Linked DNA regions of Homo sapiens: region 1 is linked to region 2. The links come from fine-mapping of genetic effects on gene expression. Tissue or cell type: whole blood. Region 2 holds a variant in brackets; the other region holds the start of a gene. All regions are shown on one strand. Distances are from middle to middle.

Region 1 (2,679 bases), 89 kb after region 2:
GATCATCCATGCCTCCTCGGCCCCGGGGGACCCTCTTGGTTCTGGAGAGAGACTTGAGATGCAATCGGACACTTGGCTCACGAGGAAGCTCCCTTGGTCTTCCCATTTGGGAGCAAATGACCCAGAAAAACACTTTTGCTGCCGACCCCTCCCCTCTCTGGCTCTGAGCGCTCCTTCCTCCTTCCCCTCTGCCCCATCCCACAGAGATTTTGCTCGGAGGAGTAAAGATTAGAAAAAGAAGTCTGGGCGCAGTGGCTTGCGCCTGTAATCCCAGCACTTTGGGAGGCCGAGGGGGTTGGATCACCTGAGGTCAGGAGTTCGAGACCAGCCTGGCCAACATGGTGAAACCCCATCTCTACTAAAAATACAAAAATTAGCTGGGCATAGTGGTGGGCGCTTGTAATCCCAGCTACTCGGGAGGCAGAGGTGGAGGCAGAGGTTGCAGTGAGCCAAGATCGCACCACTGCACTCCAGCCTGGGCAACAAGAGCAAAACTCCGTCTCAAAAAAAAAATTAGCAAAAGAAAGGCCACCCCAATCCCTCCCTGCAAAGCTCCTGGAGGTTCCAGCGGTGAGAACAGGGTGAGGGGTTGGGGGGCGGGAGACGCAGTTGTTTCAAAACTTGGGAGCCTTTTAAGAAGTTCCAGGAGGCTCAGAGATGAGTGAGGTCGCAGCCTTTCCCACCTGTCACCTCCTAGCCTCGGGCTGCAGGAGGTAAACCCAGGCTCCGTCTGGACTGATATCCCCTCCCCTCCTCAGTTAGGGGGATCAGAGACCAACCTGTGCCCCTTTGCCGCCTCCCCGGTCCCTGCGCCACCTAGGTAACAATGACCCTTTTAAGTTTCCAGCTCAGCGTCCTGGGCAGGCCGCCAGGTGCAGTAACTGCCGGTCAGATAATCCCTACGAAACTATGTCAGATGCCCACGCAGGAGTGTCAGTTTCCTGCTTTCCGAGGAGCCGGGGAGACAGCTCGTGGTGGGGGAGGTTGGGGGGGAGTCTAAGGACCCTCAGCTGGGGAAGGCCAGCTCAGACAATGCACACTGGGTGGAAAAGCACAGTGGGGCGGGGGACTTACCTGTCTAGGAGGCTGGGTGGCCTCTGGGCAGGCAGCAGGTGCCAGGGCCCGGGTGCCTGCCTGGCACGGGTGGTGGGGAGGGAACCCGAGGCTTGTAGCTCTGGCCTCCCCACCTGTTTGACCAACTTTTCCTCTCTTGTGGTGGCAACAGGGAGGCAGGTCCCCTGCCAGTGGAACTGACGACCACAGACACAGGGAGACGGACCAGGGTGAGGGGCGGGCCAGCAGGAGGACTGGGTGTGTGGCTCTGTCGCAAGGTGCCCTCACGTGGGAGCAACTGGCCTTAACCCCTGCTTGCCCAGAGGTGAGCTTGCTCCTGCCTGTGCCCTCACCGCCGAGGCCCTGGTATCAAGCGTCCGCACATGGTAGGTGCTTAGGAAACCCTCGTTGGCTACATTCAGACATGAATGGACCGCACTCCCGGAGTCCCCCTCCCTCCTGCTTCTTGCATCTGGAGCTGCCCAGTCTCTGTGCTTGCTGAGCCTCCTGCCAGGCACGCCGGCCCATCAGGCTGTGGCTTGGCGCACTCCCTTCCCCACGCAGATCTGTGCGCAGTCTGCCTCTCTGCTACGAAGTGACTGGGTTCCTACGTACAGAAGCTTCTGCCACTTCCCCGCTGTGTGGCTTTGGGCAAATTACAGGGGCTTCTTGCTGTCCTCATCTAAAAAACAAGAAAGGGTCAGGTGTGGTGGCTCACACCTGTAATTCCAGCACTTTGGGAGGCCGAGGTGGGAGGATCACTTGAGCCTGGGAATTTGAGACCAGCCTGGGTAACACGGTGAAACCCATCTCTAGAAAAATTTTTATATATCTTTTGTTTGTTGTTTGTTTTGAGATGGAGTCTCCCTCTGTCACCCAGGCTGGAGTGCAGTGGCGCGATCTCGGCTCACTGCAACCTCCGCCTCCTGGGTTCAAGTGATTCTTCTGCCTCAGCCTCCCAAGTAGCTGGGATTACAGGCGTGCACCACCACGCCCAGCTAATTTTTTTTTTTTTTTTCAGTAGAGACGGGGTTTTCCTATGTTGGCCAGGCTGGTCTCAAACTCCTGACCTCAAGTGATCTGCCCGCCTCGGCCTCCCAAAGTGTTGGGATTACAGGCGTGAGCCACCGAGCCTGGCCTAGAAAAGTTTTTTTGTTGTTGCTGCTGGCTGTTGTTGGTTTTGTTTTGTTTTTTGTTTTTATTTTATTTTTTTTTTATTTTTTTGAGACAGAGTCTTGCTATGTTGCCCAGGCTGGAGTGCAATGGCTTGATCTCGGCCCACTGCAACCTTTGCCTCCCGGTTTCAAGTGATTCTCCTGCCTCAGCCTCCCGAGTAGCTGGGATTGCATTACAGGCACCAGCCATCATGCCCAGCTAATTTTTGTATTTTTGTAGAGACGGAGTTTCACCATATTGGCCAAGCTGGTCTTGAACTCCTGGCCTCAGGTGATCCGCCTGCCTTGGCCTCTCAAAGTGCTGAGATTACAGGCGTGAGCCACCACGCCCAGCCCAGAAAACTTTTTTAAAAATTAGCCAGATGTGGTGGTACACACCTGTAGTCCCAGAAACTCAGGAGGCTGAGGTGGGAGGATCAATTGACCCTGGGAGGTTGAGGCTGCAGAGAGC
Region 2 (2,679 bases):
AGACCAGCCTGGGCAACATACCAAGACCCCATCTCTGAAAAAAAAAAAAAAATAGCCAGGTATGATGATGCATGCCTATAGTCCCAGCTACTTGAGAGGCTGAGGCAGGAGGATCACTTGAGCCCTGGAGGTTGAGGCTGCAGTGACCTATGATCACGCCACTGCACTCCATCCTGTACGACAGAGTGAGACCCTGCCTTAAAAAAAAAACAGGCCGGGCACGGTGGCTCACGCCTGTAATCCCAGCACTTTGGGAGGCTGAGGCAGGTGCATCACCTGAGGTCAGGAGTTCAGGACCAGCCTGACCAACATGGTGAAATCCCGTCTCTACCAAAAAAAAAAAAAATTAGCCAGGCTTGGTGGCACATGCCTGTAATCCCAGCCTTGGGAGGCTGAGGCAGGAGAATCACTTGAACCTGGGAAGCAGAGATTGCAGTGAACTGACACTGTGCCATTGCACTCCAGCCTGGGCAATAAGAGCAAAACTCTGTCTCAAAAAAATAAAAAAAATAAAAAATCCAGGCCATTAAAGTCACAACCCCAGATGTCTAACCTCTTGTGGCTTCTAGAACGCTGGATGCCAGGCTATGAGAAAAGCCTTCCAGATGCTGCCAATGTTTCGGGATTCCTGCCCAGTGACCCCCACCCCCACCCGCCAACCACCCCACAGTGAGGCCGCCCTGTGGTGAGGAGGCTTCCGTCAGCTCTGTAGCACTCCATCATAATTGTTAGTCAACAGAGAGACCAAAACCCACAAAGAGAAAAGAAAAGTAACCTGAAGGAGAGACAAAGAGGGCAGAAGAAAACAGTTCTAGAAAAATCCTTATGTTCCTGATTCAAACACAGAACAGAAAAAAACAAAACCTGTATGCATCTTATCCTCGGAGAGCTCATAGAGGATATAACAGCCAGGAAACAAGTATAAGTTTGCCTTTATTTATTTACTTATTTATTTATTATTTATTTTTATTTTTTATTTTTTGAGATGGAGTCTCCCTCTGTCACCCAGGCTGGAGTACAGTGATGTGTTCTTGGCTCACTGCAAACTTCACCTCCCAGGTTCAAGCGATTCTCCTCCTTTAGCCTCCCAAGTAGCTGGGATTATAGGCATGAGCCACCATGCCCGGCTAATTTTTGTATATTTAGTAGAGATGGGGTTTCACCATGTTGGCCAGCCTGGTCTCGAACTCCTGACCTCTGGTGACCCATCAGCCTCAGACTCCTAAAGTGCTGGGATTACAGGTGTGAGCCACTGCACTGGGCCAAGAAATTCTTTTATTTATTTACATATTATTTGGAGATTGGGGTCTCACTATGTTGCCCAGGCTGGTCTCAAACTCCTGAGCTCCGTGAGCCACCACACACAGCCAAGTTTGTCCTTTAAAGAGGAACGGTAAAAGAACCAGAAAGAGCTCTTGGAAATTAAAACTCTGACAGTCACTGGGTGTGGTGGTGCATGCCTGTAATCCCAACACTCCAGGAGGCTGAGGCAGGCAGATTGTTTGAGCTCAGGAGTTTGAAACCAGCCTGGGAAACATAGT[G/A]AGACTAAAAATCAAAAAAATTAGCCAGCATGGTGGCAGGCACCTGTAGTCCCAGCTACTTGGGAGGCTGAGGCAGGAGGATCACTTGAGCCCAGGAGGTCGAGGCTGCAGTGGGCTGTGATTGCACCACTGCACTCCAGCCTGAGCAACAGAGTGAGACCCTGTCTCAAAAAAAAAAAAAAATTAATAGTCAAAATTAAAATGTCAATAGAAGGGTTGGAAGAAAAAGTAGAAAGTGGGGGGGTGGGGGGGAAGGTAGGCAAGAAAATGAAAACATCAATCCAAGAAGTCCACCCTATGACAATAACGTGTTCCACAAACACGCCAGAGAAACCAAAGTGGAAGAAATCACCAATGATATCATTCAAGAAAGTTTGCCAGGAAGAGAACACAGGAAAGAGCCCACCAAGTACTCAGCACAATGGTTGAAAACAGACCCACACCAAACCCACCACTGTGAAAGTGCAGGATGTAGGGAACAAGAAGATTCTACAAGCTTCCAGAAAGAGAGAGAGAGAGACAGAAATTAACCATGGGACAGGCAAAGTATGAGGAAACAGGACAACTTCTGATCATTCAGCTGCCCAAGACTAGAAGCTGGAAAACATTGGGCAAAAGAAAAGTATCCACCTACAATACTGTCAGCCAAACCTCTAATTACCCAGGAGAGTAGGAGGAAAACACTTTCTCTGGAAACCCTAGGGGGAGCACATTCCTAAAACAAGGGACCAAACCAAGAAACAGGGAGACCCACACCCAAGAAACAGGAGCTATATCTAAGAATCCCCTTGTGCCGAAGAAGAGAGGGGCCAGGATCACAGCTGGGCAGTAGGAGAAAGTCCTGAGTGGAGATGTCAGTTCTGGTGGAGAGGCTGGGGGAAAGAGTCACAGACACATAAAACCAAGGCGATGACTAACTCCAGGGAAATAAAAAAGCAGGTCCCAGAAAATAATGTTCTTAGTATACATTGCTCCACTGTCAATAATATTTATATTAATATATATACTATAAGCACTGAATTTTCATTTAAGCAAAAATTGTGATTTAACTGTTGGGGGAGCAGAATGCCTAAGAGAGCTAAATCTTGACCTTCTGGAATAGGAAGTCAATGGACAACATCCAACTGATAAATCAAGG

Evidence for each region. PIP is the estimated chance that this variant, and not a neighbour inherited with it, causes the effect.
Region 1: it holds the start of TJP3, and the variant in region 2 is fine-mapped to the expression of TJP3 in whole blood (INTERVAL, PIP above 0.99).

The regions. Positions count from the first base shown.
Region 1 is chr19:3,706,957-3,709,635 of GRCh38, reverse strand. It overlaps TJP3 (tight junction protein 3), which reads right to left and starts at 1,252. Exons shown (of 21, transcript NM_001267560.2): 1 at 1,075-1,252. RefSeq lists enhancers at 482-1,143, 1,144-1,807.
Region 2 is chr19:3,796,345-3,799,023 of GRCh38, reverse strand. It overlaps a transcript of MATK not described here. Among named protein-coding and RNA genes, the nearest start is that of MATK, 11 kb to the right of the region's middle. The variant G/A (reference allele first, on the strand shown) is at 1,542.